4 separate regions of the Homo sapiens genome follow, and all the other regions are linked to region 2. The links come from fine-mapping of genetic effects on gene expression. A gene starts in region 2. Each other region holds a variant in brackets. All regions are shown on one strand. Distances are between the middles of the regions.

Region 1 (8,105 bases), 140 kb before region 2:
CAGTGAGTCGTGATCGTGCCATTGCACTCCAGCCTGGAGACAGAGCAAGACTCTGTCTCAAAAAAAAGAAAAAGAAAAAACAGTAATGGTTGAAATTAGGTGGGGAAAATGACACACAGAAAACAAATAGCAAAATGGCAGAAGTTAATTCTTCCTTACCAGTAATCACTTTAAATATAAATGGATTAAATTCTTCCATTAGAAGACAGAAATTGGCAGATTGGTTTTAAAAATCCCCTCATTTATCGATATGCTGTCTATAGTAAATTCACTTTAGGTGGAAAGACACAAGCCAGGAGTGGTGGCACACACTTGTAATCCCACCTATTGAGGAGGCTGAGGTGGGAGAATTGCTTGAGCCAGGGGATTCAGTAAACTCATAAATGAGTGAAAGCCCCCTTGGCATTTCTGTGCTTATATGTAGAAATATTTTTAATTATATAATTTTGGCTAATCTGCAAAGATTTTTTTTTTTTTTTTTTTGAGACAGAGTCTCGCTGTGTCGCCCAGGCGGGAGTGCAGTGGTGCAATCTCTGCTCACTGCAAGCTCCGCCTCCCGGGTTCACGCCATTCTCCTGCCTCGGCTTCCCGCATAGCTGGGACTACAGGTGCCCACCATCACGCCTGACTAATTTTTTTGTATTTTTAGTAGAGACGGGGTTTCACTGTGTTAGCCAGGATGGTCTCGATCTCCTGACCTTGTGATCCGCCTCGGCCTCCCAAAGTGCTGGGATTACAGGCGTGAGCCACCGCGCCCGGCAGATTTTTACAACCTATTCTGAAGAAAGTGAGTATGCATATATGCACTGCAGTAATTTTCAATAAGAACTTTTTCCTTAAGTGTGGAATCCTTTCTTTAAACATTATCTTAAGGAAAAACTCAATCTGGGAAACAGTTAAGAGGCTGCTCTGCTTGATATGAAGGTTGGGTAACCCTAACACCTCTGCTTCCCCCTCTGAAATCTCTAGGACTCATCATAGCACTGTTAGAAAACCACTGATGTGTTATTCATTAGTTAATTCTTAACAGGAGATGTGTCTGTGACTTAATGAGGCCAGTTGTACTAGGAATGTGCAGTTTACTTGTTACTACCACATCCTGTAAACATAATGCTGAATTTTATTGGTGAGAGGATATGCTAACATGATAGCACATCTTACACTGAGAAACTTAAACTCATATCTTTAGAAAATAAGAAAAGAAATCTACCTAGGAGTGGAATTGCTGAGTCATGTGGTAACTCTGTGTTTAATGTTTTGAGGAACTGAGAAATTGTTTTCCACAGAAGCTGCACAATTTTCCATTCTGTCCTAACGTGGGTTGGGTTTTCATTCCTCCACATTCTTATCAAGACTTCTTACTTCTTTCACTCCGTTTTTTTTTAAATTTTATTTATTATAGCTACTTTAGTGGATGTAGATGTCATTGTGGTGTTGATTTGTATTTCCCTAATGACTAATGATGTTGGGCATCTTTTCCTGTGCTTATGGGTCATTTGTATATTTTCCTTAGAGAAATGTTTGTTTAAGTCTTTGCCCAATTTTTGGTTGAATTTTTTGTCTTTTTGTTGAGTTGTTAGAGTACTTTATATAATCTGGATAATAGACCATTATCAGATATATGATTTTAAAATATTTCCTCACATTTTATCGGTTGTCTTGACACTTTATTGATAGTGTCCTTTGATGCATAAACAGTTTTTAATTTTGATGAAGTTCAGTATATCTATTTTTTAATTTTATTGGTTGTGCTTTTAGTGTCATATCTAAGAATCCATTGCCAAGTCCAAGGTCATAGAGATTACTCTTATGTTTTCTTTGAAGAGTTTCATAGTCTTGGCCCGGTGGGGTGGCTCAAGCCTGTAATTCCAGCACTTTGGGAGGCTGAGGTGGGCGGATCACAAGGTCAGGAGTTTGAGACCAGCCTGGCCAACATGGTGAAACCCCGTCTCTAATAAAAATACAAAAATAGCTGGGCGTGGTGGCACGTGCCTGTAATCCCAGCTACTCGGAAGGCTGAGGCAGGAGAATCGCTTGAATCAGGGAGTTGGAGGTTGCAATGAGCCAAGATCGCACCACTGCACCCCAGCCTGATAACAGAGCAAGACTCCTTCCCAAAAAAAAAAGAGTTTTATAGTCTTAGCTCTTACATTTGGAGTTTTGGTCCATTTTGAGTTTTTGTAAATGGTGTGAGATAAGAATCTAAGTTCATTCTTTTGCATGTGGATAGCCAGTTGTCCCAGCATCATTTATTGAAGAGACTTCTTTCTCCATTGGATGGTCGTGGCATGTCACGACCTTGTCAGAAATCAATTGATCAAAGATATGTTGGCTTATTTTTGTACTCTCAGTTTTATTCCGTTGATCTATATGTCTGTTCTTTTGCAGGTACCACATTGTTATGATTACTGTAGCACTGTAGTAAGTTCTGAAATTGGAAAGTATGTTCCTCAACTTTGTTATTATTTTTCAAGATTGTTTCAGCTATTCTGAGTCCTTTGCAATTCCTTATTAATTTTAATATCAACGTTTCCATTTTACAAACAAAATCAGTTGGAATTTTGATAAAGATTGGTTTGATTCTCTAGATTGTTTGGGGAAATGTTTCCATCTTAACAATATTAATCTTCCAGTACCTGAACACAGGATATCTTTTCATTTATTTGGGTCTTTAATCTCTTTCATCAATGTTTTGTAGTTTTCAATGTACAAGTCTTGCACCTCCTTTGTTAAACTTATTCCTAAGTATGTTATTCTTTTTGATGCCATTGTTAATGGAATTTTTAAAAATTTCCTTTTTGAATTATTCATTGCTAATATATAGAATTTCAACTGATCGTTTTGTGTTAGTCTTCCAACTTTGCTGAATTTATTAGCTCTAATAGTTTTTAAAGTTTTTTTTAGGATTTTTTATATATAAGATTGGTCATCTGAGAGTAGAGTTTCACTTCTTCTTTTCCAATTGGATACCTTTTTTTTTCCTGAGACAAGGTCTTATTCTGATTGCCCATACTGGAATGCAGTGGTGCAGTATGGCGATTTCGGCTCACTGCAGCCTCTACTTCTGCAGGCTCAGGTGATCCTCCCACCTCAGACTTCCAAGTAGCTGGGACTACACGCGCACACCACAGCACCAGGCTAATTTTTTGTATTTTTGGTGGAGAGAGGGTTTTGCCAGGTTGCCTAGGCTGGTCTCGCCCTCCTGAACTCAAGCAATCCGCCTGCCTCAGCCTCCCAAAGTGTTGGGATTACAGGCGTGAGCCACCGTGCCTGGTATTATAAGCTGTGTTTTAGTACAAGTTAGCAACCTGTCAGGAATGTTGTGGAGGGGATGTTTGTGATTTTTTATGGGATGGTTGACTGGACTTCTTGAAGTCCTCCCAGTTAGCTCTGAAATCTGTATCAAATTGAATTACCCACAAGAGGTAAAGGCCTGTCTTGTTCTTAGAGGATGAAGCAGACCTGCCTAGAGACAGGATGAGGTTTTCATTCTGCAAAAGTTATGTTTATTTGTTATAAAAAAATTTGAACAATGTAACAGTATGTGACATAGAAATCAAAAGTGTCCCAGAGGGAACCACTGTTAATCAATTTGTTATAGATAGGAAAAATCTGCAAGTGTGTGTTTATAAATTTTTAGATGTTTATGACATCCATTAGGTTCTGCGGCATTTTTCACCTAATACTATCTCTCAAATATCTATCCATATTGGTGGGTATATCATCCTCTTAAACTAATGACTGCATAGTAATTTTTTTTTTTTTTTTTTAAGACAGGGTCTCTGTTGCCCAGGTTGGAGTGCAGTGGTGTGATCTTGGCTCACTGCAACCTCTGCCTCCTGGGCTCAAGGGATCCTCCCACTTCAGCCTTTTGAGTAGTTGGAACTACAGGTGTGAGCCACCATGCCCAGCTCATTTTTGTATTTTTTATAGAGATGGTTTTATGTTGTCCAGGCTGGTCAGGAACTCCTGGGCTGAAGTGATCCATCCACCTCGGCCTCCCAAAGTGCTGGGATT[A/G]TAGGAGTGAGCCACCACGCCTGGCCTGCATAGTATTTTGGAAAATAGATCTCAAATAAAATTTAATTTACCTTTATCGATTGACTTGTTAATTAACAGTTTATCACAGTTGCAAGCAACAATTTAGTAAGCTTCTCATACATAAATTACCTGCATACCTGTGCAAGCAGTTTTATAGAATGCACTCCTAGAAATGAAATTGCCTGGTCAAAAAATATATGTGTTTTAATTATTAGTGGAACTTGCCAAATTGCCCTCCAAGAAAGTTATAGCTATTATAGTTTACAATCCATCAACACAGATTTAACAGAGCTGTTACCCAGTGTTAAAGAAGGTGTAGGGTATAGTCAGTATTTTTAATCTTTGTCAGTGTGATAAGGTGAAAATACCTGATTTTATTAAGTATTTCTCTGATTATTAGTGAAGTTGAGCATGTTTTCATGCTTAGTGGTCATTTGGCTTCTTTCAATTATTTGTTCATATCATTGACTAGATTTATATTTGATACATTTTTTTTGAGACAGAGTTTCCCTCTTGTTGCCCAGGCTGGAGTGCAATGGCACAATCTCAGCTCACCACAACCTCTGCCTCCCAGGTTCAAGTGATTCTCCTGCCTCAGCATCCCGAGTAGCTGGGATTACAGGCGTGCGCCACCATGCCCAGCTAATTTTGTATTTTTAGTAGAGACAGGGTTTCTCCACGTTGGTCAGGCTGGTCTCGAATGCCTGACCTCAGGTGATCCGCTCACCTTGGCCTCCCAAAATGCTGGGATTACAAGTGTGAGCCGCCGTGCCTGGCCTGATATTTCCATTTTTATCGAAGTAATACATACCATAGTTTTAAAAGTCAGATAGTTCTACAAGACTTCAGAAGCAAAACACATTGGTCCCCTGCCCAACTCTGTCAGTCGCTGATTCTTCTGTGGCAACTACTTTTATTAATAACTTTTTTAGTTCATTTCTGATACTTTTTTTTTTTAAGATACAGGATCTCAGTCTGTCACCCAGGCTGGAGGGCAGCAGCTCCATCATAGCTCACTGCAGCCTCAAACACCTGGGCCCAGGCAATCCTCCTGCCTCAGCCTCCCAAGTAGCTAGGACTACAGGTACACACCACCACGCTTGGCTAATATATATATATTTTAATTTTTTGTAGAGTTGGCTCTCACTATATTGCCCAGGCTGGTCTTGAATTCCTGGCCTTAAGTGATCCTCTTGCCTTAGCTTCCCAAAGTGTTGGGATTATAGCATGAGCCACCACAATTGGCCTTGCGTTTTTTAAATAACATGTTTATACTGATGTATAAATTTCTACTTTATTATATTTAAATATAATATTTGTGGGTTTTTTGTTTTTTTTTTTTGAGACGGAATCTCACTCTGTCACCCAGGCCGGACTGCGGACTGCAGAGGCGCAATCTCGGCTCACTGCAAGCTCCGCTTCCCGGGTTCACGCCATTCTCCTGCCTCAGCCTCCCGAGTAGCTGGGACTACAGGCACCCGCCACCGCGCCCGGCTAATTTTTTGTATTTTTAGTAGAGACGGGGTTTCACCTTGTTAGCCAGGATGGTCTCGATCTCCTGACCTCATGATCCACCCGCCTCGGCCTCCCAAAGTGCTGGGATTACAGGCGTGAGCCACCGCGCCCGGCCAATATTTGTGTTTTTTAAATAACATGTTTATACTGATATAAATTTCTACTTTATTATATTTAAATATAATATTTATGTTTTTTAAATAACATGTTTATACTGATGTATAAATTTCTACTTTTAAATATTATATATTGACTTCCTACTTTGGAAGGTAATAATTATGTGGGTTTTTTTTGTTTTTTTTTTTTTTTTTTGAGACGGAGTCTCACTCTGTCACCCAGGCTGGAGTGCAATGGCATGGTCTCGGCTCACTGCAATCTCTGCCTTCTGGGTTCAAGCGATTCTTCTGCCTCAGCCTCCCAAGTAGCTGGGACTACAGGTTCATGCCACCACACCCAGCTAATTTTTGTATTTTTAGTACAAATGTATTTTAGTACAAAATACAATAGTATTTAGTATTTTGTATTTAGTACAAATGTATTTTTGTATTTTTAGTACGTGGTTTCACCATGTTGGCCAGGATAGTCTCGATCTCCTGACCTCGTGATCTGCCCACCTTGGCCTCCCAAAGTGTTGGGATTACAGACATGAGCCACTGTGCCTGGCGGTAATAATTATCTTTTACTGCTATACCTATACCCGTTACATACTACAAACATTTCCTCCTCCCAATTTTTAAATAAATATTCATTGTTTACATTATTAAGTATTATATGTAAGTATTATTCACAAGATGTATTATTCACAGCTTGAGCCATATGATATATTTGGTACATTTTCTTTCCTTTGCTCAGGTTTCTTTTGGAATGTTTCTTACTGATTTGTAAGAGCTCTTTGTAGGTCAGGAATAAGCCTTCTGACATAATTTGCTACGGATATCTTTCCCCAGTTTGTCATTTGATTTTATTTGTAGAATTGGTAGAAAAATTTTTATAGATTAGATTTATGAACGATCTTTTTTTTTTTAAGATGAAGTCCTGCTCTGTCGCCCAGTTTGGAGTGCAGTGGCATGCTCTCGGCTCACTGCAACCTCTGCCCCCGGTTCAAGCGATTCTCCTGCCTCAGCCTCCCAAGTAGCTGGGATTACAGGCTCCTGCCACCATGCCTAGCTAACTCTTTGTATTTTAGTAGAGAAGGGGTTTCACCATGTTGGCCAGGCTGATCTCGAACTCTGGACTTCAAGTGATCAAACTGCCTCGGCCTCGCAAAGTGCTGGGATGACAGGTGTGAGCCACTGCCCCCAGCCCAATTTATGAACGATCTTGTTGGCTAAGTACTCTATTGTTTGCTATTCTGTTTGGATGGCCCATCTTGCTGTTCCTGATTTTCTATCCTGGTTCTTATAAAGTTCTTCTGCCTGCCTAGGCATATTTTAGGTAATAGCCATAGCTACCAATTTTACAATTCTTGTGGACCTCTCATTCTCAAATCTGCTGTAGGTTAAAGGTCAGTTCTAGAGAGGAGAAGCAGAGCATAAATATAGTTGGGACATTACCACCTATGTAATTACGTAGACATAATTAATAACACTAGCTAGCATTTATTGAGTACTGTCTATTTATTTGTTCAGTCAGTAGATATTCGTTGATCCTTTCTAGTCCCACGCTGGGGCTGTGCTCAGTTATATTGTTTCCTTTGTGGAGAAACAACTTTGAAAAACAGTTTCAAACTGTTTTTAAATTAAACTCCCTATGATCTGGGAGTTTAATTCCTAGATATATGCCAAGAGAAGATTTTGGTACATCCTCCTAGGATTTTTCTTTTTTCTTTCTTTCTTTTTTTTTTTTTTTGAGTCAGGCTCTTGCTGTGTTGCCCAGGCTGGAATGCAGTGGCGCGATCTCGGCTCACTGCAACCTCCGCCTCTTGGGTTCAAGTGATTCTCCTGCCTCAGCCTCCCAAGTAGCTGGGATTATGGGTGTCTGCCACCATGCCCGGCTAATTTTTGTATTTTTTAGTAGAGACAGAGTTTCACCATGTTGGTCAGGCTGGTCTCGAACTCCTGACCTCAGGTGATCCACCTGCCTCGGCCTCCCAAAGTGCTGGGATTACAGACGTGAGCCACCGTGCCTGGCCCCTCTTAGGATTTTTCATAGCAACACTATTTGTAGTAGCAAAAACTTGGAAATGACAATACTCACGTAAAGGTGAATGGGTGAGTTAGTTGTGATATATTCACATAATGGAATATAACATATAAAATAATGCATATGACATACTTATAAAAAGACAAAATATAAAATAACTATAGCTACAAATAATGGTAAGGATGAAGCTTAGCAGTATAATATTGAGTGCAAAAGAAGAGTCCTAGAAGACCACTTATAAGTTGACACTTTTTATAGAAAGGTAAAAATAATGGAAACTTAAGTGGTATGTTTTCTTTTTTTTGGCTAAGTTTGTGTTAGGCATAAACGGTATGTTTTAAAATTACGTATATGTGTGATAAAACCATATTTTACTTTATTTTGAGACAGGGTCTTTCTCTGTCACCCAG
Region 2 (8,097 bases):
CCAGCAGCAGCTTCCGCTCCTCTCGGTCCTAGAAGTGGTCATGGGAGAGAAGTCAGCCCCAGGACCCGTAGATCCTGCCTTTCACGGGTGCTACCCTTAGCCCAGCTCTGACCTTAAACACCAAAAATGTTTCTATAAGGAATATCTAAAGTGCCCAGCTTTATGGAATGCCAGATAAGACTCAGTTCCTGCCTATCCTTGGGAGCTCAACTGAGTTGGTGTTCTAGGATAAATGAGAGTGGAACCAGGCAGTCCTAGAGGCCCTGAAAAAATGGACAGAGGCACAAAGCAGGTAGTCAGCAACAGCCCTGGAGCTTGAAAAACATTCTAGGACCTGGCAAAGAAAGGATACTAGAGGCTGGAAGACAGTGGAGCTGAGACATAGCAAGCACTGGGATCTAAAGGGGAAATCAGTGCAAGTCAAGAGCCCAAGAACAGCCTTCCTCATCCCCTAGGACCAGGCCTTCCCCAGCAAAGCTGTTCGCTTCCAAGATGGAAGCCCTGGCGAGTCCAGACAAAGCCCTAGGCCCCAAGAGAAAGCAAGCCCAACCTCTCCATGGCCATTTCTCAAATTATGTCAGGGCAGGAATCCCAGCCCAGCTCTGGGTCACACAGTACAAGTGTGTTCCCTTCTTGAAGGCAGGTCCCTTCGAAGGTGTTCACCCTCCTGTGCTCTGGTGCTCTTTTTGTACGTGACTCCCAGAACCAAACTGAGTGTACATGGTGTATCCTGATCTGAGCAGTACAGCTGTAGCCATGTATGGTGATTCACACCAGTAATCCCAACACTTTGGGAGCCCAAGGCAGAAGGATTGCTTGAGTCCAGGAGTTTGAGACCAGCCTGGGCAACAAAGCAAGACCTCGTCTTTGCAAAAAAAAAAAATTAGCTGGACTTGGTAGTGTGAGCCCTGCAGTCCCACCTACTTGGGAGGCTGAAGTGCAACGACTGTATGAACCCAGGGTTTGAGGCTGCAGTGAGCTAGGACTGTGCCACTGTACTCCAGTCTGGGCAAGAGAGCAAGACCCCATCTCAAAACAAACAACAATGGCGCTGTTCCCTCCCTTGCTAAACCACCTGAGTAGCCCATGTAAATTTTCAGCAGCCCTGTTCCTGCTGGCCTGTGCTGATAATCACAACCCCTGAACTAATGTAAGACCAAACCAAGCTTCCTCATTGGTTTGGTCTTCCTCCTTGTCCTCTTTCAGTCCCCTGTTCTATCTACTGTAATATTTCTGGATTTGACCCTGCCTTGAGACCATCAGCTGCAAATCCTTGCTTGCTGTATCAGCAGTAAATGAGAAAAACAGACCTGCTGGGTATCTATCCAACCCATAAAGAGCAAGAGTGCCCTGAACAAAGCCAAGGATGGGCCCAGGGGGACATCCTGGCTAATGCTGACTCACCAACCTTCAGTGCCAGACTCCTCAATGCTCCCCTCCAGGCCTATCTCAGTTCCTCAGTCTTTCCTGCTGCAGGCCGCAGCTCCCCTGCCCACAACTCCACAACTCTCCTTGTAGAGGGCTACTTCCTCCTGCCCTGCTTAGGGAGGCCCAGCCTTTTCACCTTACTCTTCTTTCTCAAGGCTAGGTTGCCCAAGTGTCCTCAGGCAATTTGATCCAGTTCCCAACAGCAAGAGACAGAAGCTGTGGGCTTTGCCCCATCACCTCTATAAACTCCCAGACACCCTTCCTCCCTAAATACATAGGCTCAGTATTAAAGAGCTAAAAAGACAAAATGTTTGCCAAAGATAAAACTATGTATTTCTAAGGAAAGCTGGCTCCATAATGAGGCCCAAGTTAGCTTCCTATGTGTCTGTCCTCCCAGCTCCACTTCAGACAGATCTTCCTGCAGGACAGGGTAGTCTCTTCCCTATCAGGGGTTCTTCAAGAAGAAGGTTGGCTGATCACTTCTCAGCCTTCAGCTAAGATCAAGTGAACAACAAGGTTATTTTCTTGAAACCCAGACTTAAAGAAGAGGCCATGCTACCTACTTCAGAGCAGACAAACATCACCCCACTCCCAAAGTGCGAGTGGAGCATGGGTTAGGTTTGTCACATCAAGGTTTGTCTCTGCATTAGTGTAACCCAAGAGGCAGGGTTTCACTGTCTACCTTAGCACAGACATAGCAGCCTGCCCGTGACTGGCCACCTGGTCTAGGGGCATGGCTGAGACAGCTTGGCCCCATGGATAAAGTACATGGCCTAGCGTCAGAACACCTGGGCACTAGCACTTCTCAGCTTGGCCAAATCACTTAGCTTCTCTGAACTTCTTCCTCACCTTTCAATAGACATAACCCACACTAATATGACGGATGTCTGGCAAGAGTCAAATTAGATAACTGTGAAGGCCCTTTGTAAACTGTAACGTGTTGTATATTTTTTATTATGATAAAGAGACAGAGATGAGAGTCGGAGAGGGGCCTGCCCAAGAACTCAAAGAGGGACTGTGGGATGGTGGATGGTTATGGCCCTTGCTACATGAGGCCTCAAATCACCCAGCAGTGATTAAGCACCTTCTCTGGGTGTTAGGAACAGAAATGAGAGCCCCCCAAGGAGAAGGTAGAGATTCAGGAGAGCAGCAGGCCCAGCTCTCCCTTCCAAGTAGAAGCTTGTATCCTTTCTCATACGGCATTAATCCTTCTTGACTCATTCCCTGCAAGAGTCCATATTATGCTTTAAGGGACAATTTCCCACTAGGCTACAGCTCTCCCAGTAGGCAGGGTTATTGTTGTCTCTTTCTCAAAAAGGTGGAAGTGAAGTGAGAGGTATTAGGCACAACACATGCCTAACACAGGGCAAAGGAAATATGTGTTCATTGGGTGTATGGAGAATTGAGAACCAGAAGCCACCCTTGCTTCCCATACAAACGACATTTTCCTAGGCTTAAGCCCTTAATCCAAAATACGTTCACTGAAGAACGAACTACTTCCCAAGTACCAGTGATATAATCTATTTTTGTGACCATCTTCCCCATTAGACCGTGAGCTACCTGAAACCTTTCTACTCTCTCAGGTCTACTATATGTTCAAATGTAGAATCCGGGCTTAGAGACGATCAAAAAAGGAGAGTAGACAGCAACTTGAGACTTCATCCTTGAATGTCAGGCCAGGCAGGGCAGGGATTAGAGTGTGGGGAGAAGTGAGAATGCACTAAGAGGAAGAGGGAGAATTTAAAACTGTACAGGTCTCCCCAGCCTAACCCTTTCTCCAAAGGTATCAGATCTACAGCCAAATTCTCAGAATAGGCATGTCTCCAGCTAAAGGAACCCTCAGGCCCCAGGCAGACTGCACTGAGGCAAGCCAAACTCAGAACCAAATGAACTTCCCGCTCCATTTCTCTTTTCCCACAATCTAGCCAAAGCTAAATCCTCTTTGTTGCTTCCCAGACAATTTCCCACATGTCCCGATGTCCTCACTGTATCGATTAAATCCTTCATTGGCCAATTCAAAGGCCACCAACTTCCAGAGTCGTCCCCTGGCCCTAGACTAGCAGCGACCTTCCTTCTGCAACCCCAGGGACTAAGACGATACACGAATTCCTGATTCATCTCAGGACAGACTAACTCAGGGCCTCAGCTTACCCACCCCTAAAATGGATTCGCAAAGCCCACTAATACACAGAAGACACAGGAAGCTGGGGAAGGGAGTGTTTCCCGGGGACCTAGACTGAGGATCCTTGAATCTGAAAAGTTTTGAAGGTAGGAGCAAACGGAAGTGGTGGGAGCGAGCCGGACAGGCGGCTGCCTGCACACCCCGAGGCGGGGACTGTGTAGAAATCTGGGGCTTTAACAGGGGTAGGAGCCCGGCTTGGCGTCTCCTCTGTAATCTGTCCCCTCCAGGCCTCCGTATTCAGTGAGCCCTGCAGTCCGGCTGCCCGTCCTCCGCAGGTTTCTTTCTGGGCCCCATGCCCCAGTGTCTTAGCCCTCATTCCCGAGCCCCGCCTGCCGCGGCCGCACCTGGTCCGAGTCCTCGTTCTCGCTGCTGTAGCAGCACCCCATGGCCGGGGTCGGGCCGGGCGCTCAGGCCGCGCCGAGGAGGGACGGCGTCCGTGAGGAGCCCTTCCGGTCACATGACCCGCGGCGGCCTCCCGCAGGCAACCACCCGCCCCCACCCCCCGTACCCCCTGTCCCGGAGCCGCTTGGCCGCCTCAGTCAATACCCCGGCTTCCGGTCCCGCCCGCTAGCGCGTGATCGTTGTCAACCAATGGGAAGGCGTAACCGTACACGCAAGCACGTGATGCGGGGAAAGGGCGGGGCGGATCACATGACTTCATCTTTCCAGTCTCTAAACTGGCAGTAGTGGCCATCGTGAATTGTGTTATGCGTTCTCGTGGCCACTAGGCCACTTTTCTGGGCCATTGAGCGAACTCGTACCAAATGCCCTCGTATGCCCTTGTGATATACTCTTCTAAATGCCATGCGAGGGGCGACTGGGATCCAGGCCTGATGCTCCAGATCGTACGGTCTGGGTGCACACACACAGATGATCCAGATGACCAGTACCTAGTCGGGGAACACAGAGGGTGTATCGCCCAGCTGGGCTGGGGGTGAATACACAGAGGGTGTATTCTCCACCTGGGCTGGGGATCTGCGACTTACAGGAAGAAGGGACCTTATACTACCTTCACATGCTGACGCGCAGCGGAGATAAATCCTGGTAGAGGAGATAGAAGCCACCTCACTGACCTCTCTGCTTTCAGGCTTTTATCTTTAATTCTGCCTTTTTTAACAGCACCCATTGTAATCGAACGCACAAAGCTGACCATCAGTTCTCTTTTCCTAACCCCCGCTCCATGTCTTCCCTTGGGCCCTGAACACAGGTCCAAGTCCGTCCAAGATTGTATAGTGATCCATTTGTTGTTCATGAGCGTGTGATTGGGTGTTCACCAGCATGTATCAAATGTGCCACCCTCAAATCTTGTTTTGGCACATTACCCGTCTGACATAACAAGAGCCTGACACCTCTCCCACTGCATGTTCTGGGGTGAGGGGTGGAGGGGTCAGCAATGTGTTTCACTGGACATAGAGAAATAATGTAGTTTCCTGATTGATCTACTGGACTTTGTACATGCAGCCTGGTCTGCCTACTGTCTTTACTGTCTTCGAGACTCAGTACAATGTCCTCCTGATTACCTTCTCTGACTCCATTCTCTGGACATGCCCAGCTCCCTATGCTTAATCCTCATCCAGTGTTAATTCATGCATTTATTGAATCAACAAATATTTGCTGAGCGTCTACTATGTGCCACACATTGTTATATCTGGATATGCAGCAGTTCACAAAACAGCCAAAGTCCCTGTAGTCATGGAACATCCAATAGTGATCACACTATATTGTATTCTCTGTTCCTGGGTCAGTCTCACCTACCAAACTTGGGAGTTCCTGGAGCACAGTGACAGGTTCTGACTCTTCCCTGTAGCCCAAGGCATGGCCTTGCTTACAGAAAACTTGCATATCAATGAGCATGTTACAGTCACCCCATCACCTTGGCTCACCCCATGCCCCATCTTCTGATCCAAAGTATTGGAGAAGTCACCAGATCTCATACCTCTTATAACCCCTCAAATCAAGACCCTGAGGTTCTGTAAATCTTTTGAGGTTCCTGAAGGGTAGGAGGCAGCTCAAGCTCGTCCCTGGGGCTGGTAACTTGAACTGCAGGTCTCAGGTGACAGCAGCAGCCTCAGCATGAATAATTGAAAGCCATTCCAGCCTCCTACCTCAGGGTTATCCCCCGCAGCAGGCCCTGGACTCCCCGACCTGTCCTGTGCTCTGGTCCTCCAGCCCAGGTAAGCAGGGCCCTGGATTGTGGGTTCCCAAGCTCACCAGTTCAAGCCCACCGCATCACTCACCTATTCACACCCATCCATACACTCTTTCATTTTTACTCCCCGCCATCACCAGGGGCCTTGCAAGAAGGCCGGCAAGGAGGTCAGATCTGGATGAGGAGGAGAATGGTCCAGGACATGGGAGGAGAGGCCCATTCCCCATAGGTCCCTGGAGAGAAGAGCTGAGTAGAGGGAAAATGTGTGCTGTGTGTTATGTGTATGTACACATTTGTGAAGGGAATTCTGAGACAGCACAGGAGAAGAGGGGAATACAGCGGAGAGGAGATGGGGCTGGAGAATTATTAAAGAATCAAAGACTCCTCCCATCCTCAGGGAAGAGCAGGCAGAGGGAGAGTCCTGGGGTGGGAAAGAGGACATCTCACTCTAACACCCTATGGGGTATTTTGATTGCATTTTACTGAGGCAGGGCACAGTGATAGTGAAGGTGTTTTTGACTGCAAATCTATGCTCTTTTGCTACACAGCAGTGGTCAGAGGAGACCAGGCAGGCAGAGGGTAGGGGTGGGGGAAGATATCCCAGAGGTGAATTAGTGAAAGGGGTCCTGAAGAAGGGGTGACTTCAAGGATAAAGAGAAACAAGTCAGGGGAACAATGTGAAGATGGGACCAGGGGTTGGGACCGGGAAGAGGTGGTTTGGGGCTGGGTGCTGAAAGTAGACAGTATAGAGTCCTTGAAAGTACACAGGCTTGGAATCACACTAACCTGGATTCAAATCCCAGTTCTGCTCTGTGACTCTGGACAAAAGACTTAGCCTTTCTGAGCCGTGGTTTGTGAAATATAAGGATAATAATTGCTACTGGCAAAAGCTACACAAATAGGCAAATTGTGGGTATGGGATTCCCTCCCTACCTCCCTCCACCCCAGGGCCCAGGTAGGGACCATGTCCCCTGCCATTGCATTGGCCTTCCTGCCACTGGTGGTAACATTGCTGGTGCGGTACCGGCACTACTTCCGATTGCTGGTGCGCACGGTCTTGCTGCGAAGCCTCCGAGACTGCCTGTCAGGGCTGCGGATCGAGGAGCGGGCCTTCAGCTACGTGCTCACCCATGCCCTGCCCGGTGACCCTGGTCACATCCTCACCACCCTGGACCACTGGAGCAGCCGCTGCGAGTACTTGAGCCACATGGGGCCTGTCAAAGGTCAGTGTTCCCTAGCCTTCTGCTCCAAGAAGTACCCCCAAGACAGTGAAGGAATATTTGGGATCTGTTGCTGCTTAACTGGATGAATTGGGCAGGTTCTTGATCCTCTTTTAGGGCCTCTTTTTTTTCTCATCTGGAAATGAGGAGCTTGGACTAAGTCATTTATTCAGCAAACATTTATTGCCACCTCTTTTGTATTAGGAATGTGCTAGGTGCCAGGGAGAGGGGTAGAGGCCACAGAGATGAATGAGCCACAAATGCTGGCCTCAAAGGAACCATAATACACAGTGGAATAACCATCTCAGCAGATAACCCATAGCTTTGTAATTATCTGTCTCCACATCTTTCCTCTCCACCATGGAGGCTTCCACATACCATTTAGGGTAGCTGTCTGCCTGGATTTATCTCAATCCCAGCATAAGTGCTTTTAGGGTCTTATTTAAGAAATTCGGCTGTGTGGTGGCTGGTGCCTGTAATCCCAGCACTTTGAGAGGCCGAGGTGGGCAGATTGCTTGAGCTCAGGAGTTTGAGACCGGCTTGGGCAACATGGCAAAAACCCATCTCTACAAAAAATACAAAAATTACCCAGGCATGGTGGCACATGCCTGTGGTCCCAGCTACTTGGGAGGCTGAGGTGGGAGGATTGCTTGAGCCCAGGAGGCTGAGGCTGCAGTGAGCTGTGATTGTGCCACTGCACTCCAGCATGGGTGACAGAGCAAGAACCTGTCTCAAAAAAAAAAAAAAAAAGAAAAAGAAAAGAAAAGAAATTCACTGGCTGGGCATGGTGGCTCATGCCTGTAATCCCAGCACTTTGGGAGGCCAAAGCAGGAGGATCACTTGAGCCCAGGAGTTCGAGACTAGCCTGGGTAACAAAGCAAGACCCCCGTTTCTACAAAAAATTTAAAAATTAGCCGGGTGTGGTGGTGAGTAACTGTGGTTCCAGCTACTGGAAATGCTGAGGTGGGAGGATTGCCTGAGCCTGGGTGGTCAAGGCTGCAGTGAGCCGTGATCATGCTACTGCACTCCAGCCTGGGCAACACAGCAAGACTTGGTCTCAAAAATAAATAAATAAAAGTTCATCCAATTCCAAGATCAGAAATACATTTGATGAGCAA
Region 3 (8,105 bases), 29 kb after region 2:
CTCAGTAAATAGCCAAGCACTCCTCTCTAATTGCTCAGACCAACACACTCTGGAGTCATCCTAATTCCTCCCTTTCTCTCATGTCCTCCATCTCAGCAAATCCTATCAAAACATCCTTCAAAAGACATGACATTACTCCTCCCTTTTCACCACGTCCACTGCCACCACATAGCCCTGGTTCAAGTCATGGTTGCCTTAAGGCTGGGCCATTCACATAGACATCTGTGTCAATTGTTTGCTTTCCCTTGTCCCTAGAGTCAGATCAGATGCTGAACTGGAAAAAGCAAATAAAGTTTCCATTTCATTCAGAGTAAAATCCCCCATCTTTGCTGAGTCTGAACCACGGGGCCCTGAAGATCTGGCCTGGACCCCACACCTGCCGCTCCCAGCTCACTGCTGGCCACACTGGCCTCCTCCTCGCTGTTTGTTCCTGAAATGCACTGAGTACATTTTTGCTTCAGGGCCTTTGGACCTACGGGTCCCTCTGTCTGGAGCACTCCTTCCTCCATGTTCACATGACTCCCTTCTTACCTCATTATGGTATCAGCCCAAGCATCACCTCCTAGATCTTTCCTGTAGAAGATAGTAGCCCCTGCTTCATCACTCTCTGTCCCCTTAGCCTGCTTCAGTTTTCTTCAGAGCACAATCATCATCTTTATTTGTTTTCTGTCGTCTCTCTCTAACAACCTCCCACCCCCAAACTAGAATGTCAGCTCTATGACAGTAGGGACTTTTTCTTGGTCACTTCTGTAGCTCTAGAACCCAGAACAGCCTAGCACATGGTAGATGCCCAATAACTAATTCTGAGCTTAGTTTTTGAATGAATCCCCACTTCTACCCTCCTGGTCAAGGCACCATCATCCCAGGCCTGGACTTGTGAAACAGCTTTCTAACTGGTCTACCTTGCCCAATTCCAGCCTACACGTAATCCCATCTGAACACACCAAGACTGCCAATTGAACTGTGACATTCCCCTGCTTAAAACTCTTTCACTGTGACCAGTTGTAGAAACAACATTTTGTTTATCCATTTATCCATCCGTGGACACTTGGGTTGCTTTCAACTTTTAGCTATCGTGAATTAATGCTGCTGTGAATATGACTGCACAGATAGCTGTTTGCATCCCTGCTTTCAATTCTTTTGGGTGTGTGCGCACAAGAGGAATTGCTGGATCATATGGTAATTCTATGTTTAATTTTTTTTCACAGCATCTGGACCATTTTACATTCCCCCTCCACTAGATATGTTATTATATACAAAGGTGGACGGCTATACAAGGACATTCCCTACAGCATTGACTATAACAGTGAAATATGAGAAGCCACTTAAATTCAATAGAATAATGAAATAGAATCATATAGATCTATGTACACAGATAAGGGACCATCTATAGTACATTCTGTTAAGTAAAGCAAGCAAAGTGAGCTGGGCACAGTGGCTCATGCCTGTAATTCTAGCACTTTGGGAGGCTGAGGTGGGAGGATCACTTGAGCCCAAGACGTCAAGGCTGCTATGACCTATGATTATGCCACTGCACTCCAGCCTGGGTGACAGAGAGAGACCCTGTCAAAAAGAAAAAGAAAAAAGAAAAGAAATCAAAATGCAAGGGAATTAGGGGTTATTCTTCTTCCTGAGGACTGGTGCCATGGCATCCAGAGAAAGAACATTGGTGGGGATACTGATGAAAAAGAATAAAGTTTGTAGATTAGTTAAAAGTATTCCCTTAATGTTAATTTCCTGATTTTTTAAGTAATTGGGCTTTGGTTTTGTCAGATGCCAACATTTGGGGAAACTGGATGAAAGCATATGGGAAACCTCTTTACTACTTTTGCAATTTTTCTGTTAAGTCTAAAATTATCTCAAAACACTAAGTTAAGAAAATCAAATAAACTTGATGTCTTAAAACAATACCAATTAGGCTGGGCGCAGTGGCTCATGCCTGTAATCCTAGCAATTTGGGAGGCTGAAGTGGGCCGATAACCTGAGGTCGGGAGTTCGAGACCAGCCTGGCCAACATGGTGAATCCCCACCTCTACTGAAACTACAGAAATTAGCCTGGCATAGTGGCATGTGCCTATAATCCCAGCTACCTGGGAGGATGAGGCAGGAGAATCACTGGAACCGGAAGGCAGAGGCTGCAGTGAGCTGAGATCACACCACTGCACTCCAGCCTGGGGGACAGAGCAAGACTCTGTCTCAAAACAAAACAAAACAAAAACACAATACTTATTTACTTATACTTCAAGATTTTGTGAGTTTAATTATACTTCAAGATTTTGTGAGATTTTGCCCAAGAATTTGGGCAAGACTCATGATTGGCCCATCTTGGCCGGGCGTGGTGGCTCACCCCTGTAGTCCCAGTATTTTGGGAGGCCTAGGTTGGAGGATTGTTTGAGCCCAAGAGTTGAAGACCAGCCTGGGCAACATGGCGAAACCTCCTCTCTACAAAAATACAAAAATTAGCTGGGCGTGGTGGTGCGTGCCTGTAGTCCCAGATACTCAGGGAGGTTGAGGCTGCAGTGAGCCATGATGGTGCCACTGCACTCCAGCTGGGGTGACAGAGTGAGACCCTGTCTCCTAAAAATAAAAAATAAGGTAAAATAAAGATTGGCCCATCTACCCTCAACAGTTGCCTGGACTCCCTGGGGCTCAGTGCACCTAGATGCTGGACTCGGATAACCATCTGATCTTTGATGTAGTGGACAGACACTTTGTTCTTGCCATCATCTTTGGTACCTGAGATAGAAAGCCTTAAAGAGAGGCCACGCCCATGATTAAGTTTCAGGTCAAAACAACGAGCAAAAAGGCAACGGCTATAGTTGTAGGTGTAGCAAATCAGTGTGCCTTTTATCTAGAGGCTACTGAAAACCAGACATTCATTAAAGATATTCTGGTCACTTGGATGAAGGCTGGCCTTGGCATTCACCTGAATCTTTAGTAGAGTCTTTAGCACCATTGGCAACTCAGCCAGACCTGGCCTTGGCCACGATAGTGGAGCCTGGGATTGGAGGGCATGAATTTTATGAAGCCTGTAATATCAGAAATTCGTTGGTTGAGGACATACCTCTTTCTTTTTGGACCCTGTGGGCGTAATGCTATTGATACATGTGCAGAGGAGGAATTAATATGACTGTGATTGACAGAATAATTATGAAGTGCAAAGACCTCAGATCTGTGATCAGCTTCCATAGAAGTATTTGCTCAGAAGCTTCTCAGAAACATTCTCATGATTGAAGAAGCCTTGAAGAGCCCGTATTTCTGTCTATGAAATCTCCTGTTTATTGTACTATGAGGACCCATCAGAAAGTAACTGAGGTAGTGCTGATTTCCTGAGCAATTATTCAGTCCACTGTCTCAAATCCATCATGCAGAATGTTCACAGAGGGTAAAGTAAGTTTGACTATTATAACTACTCACTTTTATAAGTGATTTAATTTAAAGATTAATATGATAAGTACTCTGTTTTTCCTGGGAATTTTGTTGTAGAAAGAGTAACTGCTGTGTGGCTAAACTAAGGTTATAAGCCAAATTGTTTCCTCAGAGTTTAAGAAACACAATACTAACTCTCATGGGTTTACTAGTTGTCTGTTGCTGCATAACAAATCATTCCATAATTTTGTGGTGTATTGCTGCAGACAATGTTAAACTAAGTGGATGAAAAGGATATTCACATAGTCTCAGAGTGTCTCCCTACAAGGTAGGATTACTAACAAAGGGAAACTAATAATTATATAGTAAGGAAATCTCCTTAACCCAATAATCACCAGCAATAAGATGCAGCAACCCTCATCATGTACCTCTTGATATGATGCACTGACAAAAGCACCTCTCTTCTCTAATTTTCTTGCCAAAATGCATAAGCTCAAGCTAATTACAGGAAAATATAGACAAACCCAAATTGAGGGACATTCTGCAAAATAACTGAACAGTAATTCTCCAAAAGTGTCAAGGTCATAAAAGACAAAGACATTGAGGAACTGTCACAGATTGGAGGGAGACTAAGGGGACATGACAACTACATGCAACCTGGAATCATGGACTGAATCCTGGGCCAGAGAAAGGACATTGGGGGGGAAACTGGTGTAAAGGGCATAAAGCTTGTAGATTAGTTAACAGTATTGCCTCAATATTAATTTCCTGATTTTTTTAAGAACTGGGCTTTGGTTACATAAGATGCCAATATTTGGGGAAGTTGCATAAAAACATACGGGAAATCTTTTGACGATGTTTTGCAGTTTTTCTGCAAATCTAAAATTATTTCAAAACAAAAAGTTTAAAAATCAAATACACATAGTTGCTTGAAATAGTAACTATTTTATTATATTCCAAGATGTTGTGAGTCAGGAATTTGGCCAAAACTCAGGTGGGCGATTCTTCTGCAAAGACCCCCACAACACATTCAAAGTCACAGGCAGAGGTTGTTGGGGGAGGGCATTGAAAAGAAGAGAAGAGTCATAGGTGGGTGCAATGGAGGGAGGGCAGAGGGCTGCTGACTATGGTGCAGGACTCATCCATAATGGAGCCCTGGGGAGGCAAGGGCTTCATAACTAGACACTGGTCTTGTCACCTCAGACTCACCTGTAGCAGGACCAGATACTGAGGTCAGACTGAAAACACAGGCTCTGCCTCAGGAGAGGCTCTCTACTAGCTGAGTAAATGATGACAGTATTGGAAATGTTCCCAACATCATAATGGGAAAACATCACTTCACACTACATAAGCAATACACAGGGGCAGTGCCGGTCGTCTTCCCAGGTTAGTAGCAGTTCTACTGCCTCCAAGAGTGTTGGAGAAATACAAACCAAGCATTAGGCACTTTTAACTTGAAAACATGAAGTTCTCTTTCCTAACTTTCTTTGTTTCCTTATTTCTTCTTCTTCTTCTT[C/CT]TCCTTCTTCTTCTTCTTCTTCTTCTTCTTCTTCTTCTTCTTCTTCTTCTTCCTCTTCTTCTTCTTCTTCTTCTTTCTTCTTCTTCTCCTTCTCCTTTTCCTTCTTCTTTTTTTGCTGAGACAGGGTCTCACTCTGACAGTACAGTGGTGCCATCACAGCTCACTGCAGCCTCGACCTCCAGGGCTCAAGCAATCCTCCCAGCTCACCCTCCCAAATGGCTGAAACTACAAGCTCGCACCACCATACGTGGCTAATTTTTCTATTTTTGTGTGCAGATGAAGTTTTCCTATGTTGCCCAAGTGGTCTCAAACTCCTGGGATCAAGTGATCCATCCACCTCAACCTCCCAAAACGCTGGGATTACAGGTGTAAGCCACCACACCCAGCCCACTAACTTTTTTATATCGGCTAATGAAATAGTTTTAAGTTTAGACCCTACGAGGCATAAAGAAATAATTTTAGTTATGTTATCAGATGTACAGTAATACTCAAGTGTGCAACTGTGGATAACTTGAGTTCATGAGGTTTTTGTTTTTTTGTCAAAAGAATAAATTTATAGTGAAACTACCCAAAAAAGCAAAGTACAGAACAGTATGCTACCATTTGTGCACAGAAATGGGATATATATGGTGTAACTGCATCGAATTTACTGGATGTATGTCCAGGGACCAGAACTCTTGGTGGCTTCATGTTCATACTTTTGCAAGCACATGTGTAGTATCCTTAACTTAAAGGTACTGTTGTATACATTCTAGTGTTATCAAAATTTACATACATATTATCAAGTCAGAGAGGTCATTCTGTGTCTTAGTATTTTCACTTCATATTTGGTATATTTATGTATGTATACACACATACCTATATGTATTTAAATAAGATTTATAGTCACATGGTCCAAAAATCAAAACAATGTGGAAAGGTTTACAGAGAAAAGTCTCAAGCCTAATCCTGTTCTCTACTGCCAGGTGACCATGTTATTAATTTCTTTTCATACCTTGCCACAGAATTTTCACCTGCAAACACAGATATTCTTTTCTTTTTTAATGACAGAGTCACGTTCTGTTATCCAGGCTGGAGTGCAGTGGCGTGATCTTGGCTCACTGCAAACTCCTCCCGGGTTCAAGTGATTCTCCTGTCTCAGCCTCCTGAGTAGCTGGGATTACAGGCATGTGCCACCACACCCAGCTAATTTTTGTATTTTTAGTACAGATGGGGTTTTATCATATTGACCAGGCTGATGTCGAACTCCTGACCTCAAGTGATCCGCCTGCCTCGGCCTCCCACAGTGCTGGGATTACAGGCGTGAGCCACCACGCCCAGTCAACACAGACATTCTTACTCCTTTTTTACAGAGAATTTATTATTATTATTTTTTACATAGCATTTTTCTGCACCTTTCTTTTTCCACTTAACAATGCACTTGAAGATTTTTCCATATTTGTACATCAGGAGCTTTCTCTTTCTTTGTTACCACATTAAATTCCACTGGGTAGATGTACCATAATTTAACTGGGTCCTTATTGAAAGACAATTGAGCTGTCTCCTAGACAAAGCCTTGTGCACCTTCCCGAACAGAGGGTCTAACCAAGCAGGCAGGATGGGGTTATAAAGTAGGTGGGGAGGTGGGAGAGACTCCACCTTCCCAGGTGGGCTGAGAATGGAGGTAAGGCCCTGCAACAGGACAGAGGGAAAAGTGGGGATGAGAGGTGGGAGGCGAGATAGCGCCCACTGTTCTCGCTCAGCCCCCTCCTCCGTTTGCCGCTGACCTGTTGGCCTCCCCCAACCTCTGAGCCTGCCTCTGCCTAGGTAATTTCCCAAGACCCAGAAGGGGTGAAGGGTGAGGTGTGATTGCCCCCACCTCCTTGCCTCCCGCAGCATCTGCTCCGGGACCATGAACAATAGCTGACAGCTCCATGGCCCTTGCTGTCCCCATCTCAGCTTCCCTGGGCATCTAAACCTCAGCTGCCATGGGGTAGGAGGACAGGCTGAGGAAGCAGAAGCCTGAGGCTGTCTAGAGTCTCACTCCTGCATCAGCAGGCCACCACCTGTGGTTCCTCCTTGTGCAAATTTGAAAAGAATTGCATAAAACACTGGAGAAATCCAAGAGGGGAAGTCCACAAGGGCGGTGGCTCCCTACAAGGTCACAGAGCAAGCTGGTGTCAGAGCCTGGACCTACAGCGCTGTTGGTGGAGGTCCTGCCTCCAGGTAGGGGAAGGGCTCCCTCTCACCTCTACACGCAGCGCATTTCTTGGCTCAGCTGCCCTGTAGGGGATGCAGGGTGGGGACAGCAGAGATCTGGGCCTGGGAGGGAGAGAGTACACAATCACATGGCTGTTGCCCCTGTCTCAGGCCTTGTCTACCTCTGACTGTGGCTCTCTGGCAGGAATAGATGGACATGGCCTGGCAGATGATGCAGCTGCTGCTTCTGGCTTTGGTGACTGCTGCGGGGAGTGCCCAGCCCAGGAGTGCGCGGGCCAGGACGGACCTGCTCAATGTCTGCATGAACGCCAAGCACCACAAGACACAGCCCAGCCCCGAGGACGAGCTGTATGGCCAGGTGAGGGCAGCCTGGTGTAGGACAGCATGCACACAGGTCAGAGGGTGATGGCACGAGCAATGGCAGGTCCAGTGTGGTCAGAACCAAGGGTGCCGCTGCTGACAAGGAAGGGGAGGGGCGGCCAGGGCCACCATGCCACAGGTAAGGCCACTGAGGCAGCTTGGGGAATATGAGCTCCAATTTGAACTCCAGGCTCAGGAGTGTGCTTGTATTTCATTCCTCTGGTCTCCTGGCCTGCTCCCTACAAGGTTTCACATTCCCAGAGGGCTGGGGATGTGCCTAGGGAGAGACTGTGGCGTGGACACAATCTGTGGGTTAAAGCGAAGACAGGACAGCCTGGAAGCCCCATGACATCTGAGTCACTCCCAACATTCCATTTGCTTATTTTTAAATCGGGGTTAAAAAAAAAAAACAAATACATAACATACATTTTCCACTTTAGCCATTTTTAACTGTACGGTTCAGTGGCATTAGGTATGCTCATGTGGTTGTGCAACCATCACCACCATCCATCTCCTGACCTCTTTCATTCTCCAAAACTGAAATGGAAACTCTGTGCCCACCACTTCATTTGCTTTTCAGAACCTTCTAGAGCACATCCTCCTTGCCAGGAAATGGTGTGGATGTAGACCTTTGAGAGAGACAGATGACTATCATTCTCAG
Region 4 (8,105 bases), 63 kb after region 2:
AGCCAGACCTAAGAGGCTTCATGTGGCATGATTTCACTTACATGAAATGTGCAGGGAAGGCAAATTTATAGAGGCAGAAAGTAGATTAGTAGTTGCCTGGGGCTGGAAGTGACAACAGGGATTAATTGTAAATGGGCATGAGGGGGGATAAGAATTGAGGGGATGATTCTGAGTTTCTGTGGGGTGTATCCATGAGGGAAAGTATTCTAAGGAAATTGGCATGTGGCTCCATAAAAATCTATCATCTGAGACAAACTCCATTCCCATCATGAACTTTAAAATATTGGTTGGAAGCCAAGCATGGTGGCTCATACCTGTAATTCCAGCACTTTGGGAGGCCAAGGCAGGTAGATCACTTGAGCCAGGGATTCTAGAACAGCTTGGGCAACATGGTGAAACCCCGTCTCTACATAAAAATACAAAAAATTTAGCCCAGTGTGGTGGTCCACGCCTGTAGTCCTAGCTATGCAGGAAGCTGAGATGGGAGGATCTCTTTAGCTCAGGAGGTAGAGGCTGCAGTGGGCTATGACTGTGCCACTGCAGTCCAGCCTGGGTTGATAGAGTGAGACCCTGTCTCAAAAAAAAAAAAAAAAAAAAATAGGAATTGCTGGATGGTAATGTTGTAGGAGTTTCTCCTCAGTTCAGCCAAAGACAGGGTCCTTGTCACCTGGCCATGAAATATTAGGCTTGCAGACACTTTGAAGGGTGAGAAAAATGGAATTTATTGGGCAAAAAAAAAAAGCGGGGAAACGGGGACCCTCGGCAGAGTGAGAGTCCTGCTAGTACACGCTTCCCACCTCTCAGGTTGAATCCCAGGTTCCACCCTGGAAGAGGAGGGGCCAGGCTCCTCAGCACGAACTTCCAGAGGCTCCACCCCAGTGCACATTCCTCCCAGTGTGCGGGTTTGTCAGAGGTTCTCTGGGGACCCCTTTACACTTGGCTGTCTCATTCCCCCCTCTCAAGAAGTACATCAAACTACTGTTAGAACAAGGATAGGGGTGAGGACGAAGACCGATCTAAACTGCTTCCTGCTAACAGGGAGCGGTGTTTTGGGAAACGGCAGTCAGAGCTCCCTCAGAAGCCTATCTAAGGGTTCCCGGCAGAAGGCGCCATCTTCCGAGGCTCCGGTTGCACGACCATTTGGAGTTTGATGGCCTGAAGGCAAGAGGAGAAAAACCAGGTTATTAGAAAACATGTGTTAAAACGAAACAAGGGAGGGTAAGGACAGCTTAAAATCCCTAGGCCTTTTACCAGTTTGCACAGGGAGAGGGAAACCAAAAGCCCGACTGGTAAAAAAAACTTTACCCTTTTGCCAGCATGTCATGCTTGTGGGTTCCCTTCCTCTGAGCCCAATCCTAAGCCAACCAGCTGAAGGTTTGGGAAATTAACTCTTTCCAGTTTGGAGGATGCATCTGAGGGGAGTGTCCTATAGTACAAAGACACAATTACCTATTAGTGAAGAGAAGACAGTGGAGAAGAAAGGAAAAAAAGGTGCTTTTTAAAGGAGTCCCAGGGGTTCAGCATGCATTCAAAAGGGGTACAGAGTGAAGATGAATGGCTACCCATCTAGAAAGAGGGGAGCAGGCATCCCTGTCTCCTATCTCTTTCTAGCAGATACCAGGGGTACATGAGGGAGAGAAGGAAGAGCGTCCTCTTTCCCTCTTCTGTCCTTGCATACCCAAGTCCTGGTGACCTTGGCAGGTGCTGCCATGGGTGCCACAGCAGCTTGCACCCATGAAGCAGGGAGTACCTAGAGAATAGGAATTATCAGCCAGACTCAGTGGCTCACGCCTGTACAACCCAGCACCTTGGGAGGCCGAGGTGGGCAGATCATGATTTCAGGAGTTTGAGACCAGCCTGGCCAACATGGTGAAACCCCGTCTCTACTAAAAATACAAAACTTAGCTGGGTGTGGTGGTGCATGCCTGTAGTCCCAGCTACTCGGGAGGCTGAGGCAGGAGAATCACTTGGTCCCAGGAGGCAAAGGTTGCAGTGAGCCAAGATCACACCACTGCACTCCAGCCTGGGCAACAGAGTAAGACTCCATCTCGGGGAAAAAAAAAGAGAGAATAGGAATTATCCGCTCTTACCTATGTTTCTATACCCCCTACAGTCAGTAGTCTTGGAGTTTCCTAGACCTCATTTATGCTGTGGGGAAAAGCAAGAGAGATCAGATTGTTACTCTGTCTGTGTAGAAAGAAGTAGACATAGGAGACTCCATTTTGTTATGTACTAAGAAAAATTCTTCTGCCTTGAGATTCTGTTAATCTATAACCTTACCCCCAACCCTGTGCTCTCTGAAACATGTGCTGTGTCAACTCAGAGTTGAATGGATTAAGGGCGGTGCAAGATGTGCTTTGTTAAACAGATGCTTGAGGGCAGCATGCTCCTTAAGAGTCATCACCACTCCCTAATCTCAAGTACCCAGGGACACAAAAACTGCGGAAGGCCGCAGGGACCTCTGCCTAGGAAAACCAGATATTGTCCAAGGTTTCTCCCCATGTGATAGTCTGAAATATGGCCTCGTGGGAAGGGAAAGACCTGACCGTCCCCCAGCCCGACACCCGTAAAGGGTCTGTGCTGAGGAGGATTAGTAAAAGAGGAAGGAATGCCTCTTGCAGTTGAGACAAGAGGAAGGCATCTGTCTCCTGCCTGTCCCTGGGCAATGGAATGTCTCGGTATAAAACCCGATTGTATGCTCCATCTACTGAGATAGGGAAAAACCGCCTTAGGGCTGGAGGTGGGACCTGCGGGCAGCAATACTGCTTTGTAAAGCATTGAGATGTTTATGTGTATGCATATCTAAAAGCACAGCACTTAATCCTTTACATTGTCTATGATGCAAAGACCTTTGTTCACGTGTTTGTCTGCTGACCCTCTCCCCACAATTGTCTTGTGACCCTGACACATCCCCCTCTTTGAGAAACACCCACAGATGATCAATAAATACTAAGGGAACTCAGAGGCTGGCGGGATCCTCCATATGCTGAACGCTGGTTCCCAGGGTCCCCTTATTTCTTTCTCTATACTTTGTCTCTGTGTCTTTTTCTTTTCCAAATCTCTCGTCCCACCTTACGAGAAACACCCACAGGTGTGTAGGGGCAACCCACCCCTACATATGCCATGGATACTAGCATGACCTTTATCCATGAAATGGGAGGCTTGGCTTGATTGGCAGGAATTAGCCATGCTCACTTGCACGCACTGTGCCTTTTTTTTTTTTTTTTTTTTTTTTTTTTTTGAGACAGAGTCTCGCTCTGTTGCCAGGCTGAAGTGCAGTGGAGTGAACTCGGCTCACTGCAACCTCCGACTCCCTGGTTCAAGTGATTCTCCTGCCTCAGCCTCCTGAGTAGCTGGGATTACAGGCACGCACCACCATGCCCAGCTAATTTTTGTATTTTTTTTTTCGAGATGGAGTCTTGCTCTGTCGCCCAGTCTGGAGTGCAGTGGCATGATCTCAGCTCACTGCAACCTCCACCTCCCAGTTCAAGCGATTCTCCTGCCTCTACCTCCCAAGTAGCTAGGATTACAGGTGCATGCCACCATGCCTGGCTAATTTTTGTATATTTAGTAGAGACGGGGTTTCACCGTGTTTGCCAGGATGGTCCCGATCTCCTGACCTCATGATCTGCCCGCCTTGGCCTCCCAAAGTGCTGGGATTACAGGTGTGAGCCACTGTGCCCGGCCTTGCACTGTGCCTTTTAACCCCTGTTATCATCTGCCTCTGAATCCCTTAGATCCAGTTTTCTTTCCTGGGGCTTTGACTCAAAGCTTGGAATAGAATTTGAAACAAAAATATGTGTCTAGGAAGGGCTGCATGGACTCCTTATCATAAGCCAAATGCTAAGGAAGGTGAAGCTGCAGAATTGAGTCCTCCTCCAACAAGGGAGAGAAAAAGATGTCTTGTGACATGCCCAGATAATTGGTGGCTATAGTTATGTAAGCTAGGATTTGGGTGCATGGTGCTTGGCTTTGGTTAGCTCTTACTTTCCAAAAAAGGAAACCTCCGATTAATGGGCATCCTATTTATTCCCATCACCTGGCAGGATTTGCAGGATAATTGCTCAGAACTAAAATATTGATCCAGATTTTTACATTACCCATCCTCTCCTTCTTTCTGAGCTGCAGCTGGAGATTGCTGGTTGGTTCACAGGAACAAGGAGTGTTAGCCTAAAAATGTAGGCAAAAACTTAAACACTAATGACTTTAGAATTTATTGACAAATGTATGGTGTTTTGAAACATAATTTCTCTCTCTCCAGTCCTCATTTTTGTTAAAAAAGCAAATTATGGTAGGATTGAGTTGTTTGCAAAATAGACTTTAGTCATATACTTGGCCTGATTATTTGCATAAAGTGCAGCAAGAATAACTATTTCTACATAAGTCTTTTAGATTGGCTTTGATGGAACTCTGTTCTTCAAGGAATTTCAGACAAAACGTTTTAAAACTGAGCCCAGCCATGGATTTGTATCCTCAAATACCTGTAAGTTGGATGATCTTCTCGTGTTAAGGTCCCATGACAAATTTGGAGCTC[C/A]TAGACCTGTTAGAAAGTGACATTCTTGGCCAGGCGTGGTGGCTCACACCTGTAATCCTAGCACCTTGGGAGGCCGAGGTGGGCGGATCACCGGAGGTCAGGAGTTCGAGACCAGCCTGGCCAACATGGTGAAACCCTGTCTCTACTTAAAATACAAAAAATTAGCTGGGTGTGGTGGCAAGTGCCTGTAGTCCCAGCTATTTGGGAAACTGAGGCAGGAGAATCACTTGAACCTGGGAGGCGGAGGTTGCAGTGAGCCGAGATCATGCCACTGCACTCCAGCTTGGCGACAGAGCAAGAGTCTGCCTCAAAAAAAAAAAAAAAAGAATACTCACGGATAATTTCCAAATTCTGGAGAAGCCAGGCAGAGAGAGAGAAAAATATGCTTCAAATTTTGTTCACAGGAGTGTAGCTTACTCTAGTATTAAAGGCCTTAAAGAGTTCAAAATAATTTTCCTTGACTCTGAGAAACAAAACAAGGATCAGCAATATTCCAAGCAAAAGTCAAAAAGGTTGCTTCAGCTTTCTGAGTTCAGTCCATTCAGTTCTTGTTATGCTTGATATTCGTGAACATTTTAGCTCTTCATGAGTCCTGTACATTTTCCTTTATTCCAATATCACAGTCTCCAAAGTTATCAGAAACCTGTATTTGAGAGCACCTGTCAGAGTCCTATAGCTTATTACAAACCAACTTTATTTTTTTTTGAGACAGGATCTTGCTCTGTTGCCCAAGCTGGAATGCAGTGGTGAGATCTTGGCTCACTGCAACCTCCACCTCCTGGATTCAAGCGATTCTCCTGCCCCAACATCCTGAGTAGCTGGGATTACAGGTATGTGCCACCATGCCCGGCTAATTTTTGTATTTTTTTTTTTTTAGTAGAGATGGGGTTTTACCATGTTGACCAGGTTGGTTTTGAACTCCTGACCTCAGGTGATACCCCTGACTTGGCCTTCCAAAGTGCTGGGATTAAAGGTGTGAGCCACTGCACCCAGCCGGATCAGGCACTTTTAACTTGAAAACATGAAGTTCTCTTTCCTAACTTTTTTCTTTCTTTCTTTTTTTTTTTTTTTTCCGAGACAGGATCTCACTCTGTCACCCAGGCTGGAGTGCAGGGATGCCATCACAGCTCACTGCAGCCCTGACCTCCTGGGCTCAAGCAATCCTCCCAGCTCATCCTCCCAAATGGCTGGGACTATAGGCTTAGACCACCATACCCAACTAATTTTTGTATTTTTGTGTGAAGATGAGGTCTCCCTATGTTTCCCAGGCTGGTCTTGATCTCCTGGGCTCAAGCAATCCATCAGCCTTGGCCTCCCAAAGCACTGGGATTATAGGCATGAGCCACCAAGGACGGCCCCCTAATGTTTTTTATATTGGCTAATGAGCTTTAAGTTTATACATACAAGGCATAAAGAAATAACTTTAAAGTTATGTTATTAGATGTACAGTGATATGATTTAGCTCTGTGTCCCCACCCAAGTCTCATCTTGTAGCTCCCATAACTCCCATGTGTTGTGAAAGGGACCTGGTGGGAGATGATTGAATCGTGGAGGTGGGTCTTTCCCGTGCTGTTCTCATGATAATGAATGGGTCTCACAAGATCTGATGGTTTTAAAAACGGGAGTTTCTCTGCACAAGCTCTCTCTTTGCCTGGTGCCATCCACATAAGATGTGACTTGCTTCTCCTTGCCTTCCACCATGATTGTAAGGTCTCCCCAGCCATGTGGAACTGTAAATCCAATAAACCTCTTTCGTAAATTGCCCAGTCTTGCATATGTCTTTATCAGCAGCGTGAAAACAGATGAATACAGTAAATTTGTACTGGGAGTGGGGCATTGCTGAAAAGATACCCAAAAATGTGGAAGCGACTTTGGAACTGGGGAACAGGCAGAGGTTGGAACAGTTTGGAGCGCTCAGATGAAGACAGGAAAATGTGGGAAAGTCTGGAGCTTCCTAGAGACTTGTTGAAGGGCCTTGACCAAAAGCCTGATAGTGATATGGACAATAAGGTCCAGGCTGAGGTGGTCTCAGATGAAGATGAGGAACTTGTTGGGAACTGGAGCAAAGGTAACTCTTGTATGTTTTAGCAAAGAGACTGGCAGCATTTTGTCCCTGCCCTAGAGATTTGCAGAACTTTGAACTCGAGAGAGATGGTTTAGGCTATCTGGTGGAAGAAATTTGTTTATTATTATTATTATTATTATTATTATTATTATTATTTTGAGATAGAGTCTCACTCTGTCACCCAGGCCAGAGGACAGTAGCGTGACCTTGGCTCACTGCAACCTTCGCCTCCTGAGTTCAAGCGTTTCTCATGTCTCGGCCTCCCAAGCAGCTGAGATAACAGGCATGTGCCTCCATGCCTGGCTAATTTTTGTATTTTAGAAGAGACAGGGATTCACCACATTGGCCAGGCTGGTCTCAAACTCCTGACCTCAAATGATCCAACTCAGCCTCCTGAAGTGTTGGAATTACAGGCATGAGCCACCACACCTGGCTGCGGAAGAAATTTCTAAGCTGCAAAGCATTCAAGAGGTGACTTGGGTGTGGTTAAAGGAATTCAGTTTTATAAGGGAAGCAGAGAATAAAGGTTCAGAAAATTTGCAGCCTGACAATGCGATAGAAAAGAAAAGCCAATTTTCTGAGGAGAAATTCAAGCCAGCTGCAGAAATGTGCATAAGTAACAAGAGGAACATTAACCCCCAATACAATGGGGAAAATGTCTCCAGGGCATGTCAGAGGTCTTCTTGGCAGCCCCTCCCATCACAGGCCCAGAGGCCTAGGAGAAATGGTTCCGTGGGCCAGGTCCAGGGTCCCCGTGCTGTATGTAGCCTAGGGACTTGGTGCCTTGTGTCCCAGCTGCTCCAGCCATGGCTGAAAGGGGCCAACATAGAGCTTAGGCCATGGCTGCAGAGGGTGAAAGCCCCAGTCCTTGGCAGCTTCCACGTGGTATTGAGCTTGCAAGTGCACAGAAGTCAAGAATTGGGGTTTGGGAACCTCCACCTAGATTTCAGAAGATGTATGGAAATGCCTGGATGCCCAGGCAGAAGTTTGCTGCAGGGGTGGGGTGCTCATGGAGAACCTCTGCTAGGGCAGGGCGGAAGGGAAATGTGGGGTTGGAGCTCCCACACAGAGTCCTTACTGGGGCACTGCCTAGGGCAGCTGTGAGAAGAGGGCCATTGTCCTCTAGCCCCAAGAATGGTAGATCCACTGACAGCTTGCACTGTTTGCCTGGAAAAGCTGCAGACACTCAATGCCAGCCTGTGAAAGCAGCCGGGAGGGAGGCTGTACACTGAAAAGCCACAGGGGCGGAGCTGCCAGAGACCATGGGAACCCACCTCTTACATTAGTGTGACCTGATATGAGAGATGGAGTCAAAGGAGATCATTTTGGAGCTTTAAGATTTGACTGCCCTGCTGGATTTTGGACTTGCAGGGGCCTGTAGCCCCTCTGTTTTGGCTAATTTCTCCCATTTTGGAGTGGCTGTATTTACCCAATACCTGTACTCCCATTGTATCCAGGAAGTAACTAACTTGCTTTTGATTTTACAGGCTGATAGGCAGAAGTGTC

What was found.
Region 1: its variant is fine-mapped to the expression of LAMTOR1 in whole blood (TOPMed, PIP 0.93).
Region 3: its variant is fine-mapped to the expression of LAMTOR1 in whole blood (INTERVAL, PIP above 0.99).
Region 4: its variant is fine-mapped to the expression of LAMTOR1 in whole blood (TOPMed, PIP above 0.99).

The regions. Positions count from the first base shown.
Region 1 is chr11:71,961,503-71,969,607 of GRCh38, forward strand. The region is part of intron 3 of RNF121 (ring finger protein 121); the gene reads left to right. Among named protein-coding and RNA genes, the nearest start is that of IL18BP, 33 kb to the right of the region's middle. RefSeq lists an enhancer at 1,234-1,353. The variant A/G (reference allele first, on the strand shown) is at 4,018.
Region 2 is chr11:72,099,229-72,107,325 of GRCh38, forward strand. It overlaps LAMTOR1 (late endosomal/lysosomal adaptor, MAPK and MTOR activator 1), which reads right to left and starts at 4,069. Exons shown (of 5, transcript NM_017907.3): 1 at 3,955-4,069; 2 at 1-28. The coding sequence starts at 3,996. It overlaps LRTOMT (leucine rich transmembrane and O-methyltransferase domain containing), which reads left to right. Exons shown (of 9, transcript NM_001145310.4): 6 at 5,736-5,784; 7 at 6,828-6,982. It overlaps TOMT (transmembrane O-methyltransferase), which reads left to right and starts at 6,696. Exons shown (of 3, transcript NM_001393500.2): 1 at 6,696-6,982. The coding sequence starts at 6,724. It also overlaps the pseudogene LOC124902837 and a transcript of ANAPC15 not described here. RefSeq lists enhancers at 3,775-3,854, 4,635-5,155 and a silencer at 3,955-4,224.
Region 3 is chr11:72,128,679-72,136,783 of GRCh38, forward strand. It overlaps FOLR3 (folate receptor gamma), which reads left to right and starts at 7,047. Exons shown (of 5, transcript NM_000804.4): 1 at 7,047-7,090; 2 at 7,269-7,442. The coding sequence starts at 7,275. It also overlaps the pseudogene RPEP6. The variant C/CT (reference allele first, on the strand shown) is at 4,886.
Region 4 is chr11:72,162,225-72,170,329 of GRCh38, forward strand. FOLR1-AS1 (FOLR1 antisense RNA 1) reads right to left here. Exons shown (of 3, transcript NR_199595.1): 3 at 1,098-1,155. Among named protein-coding and RNA genes, the nearest start is that of FOLR1, 26 kb to the right of the region's middle. RefSeq lists an enhancer at 2,502-3,311. The variant C/A (reference allele first, on the strand shown) is at 4,535.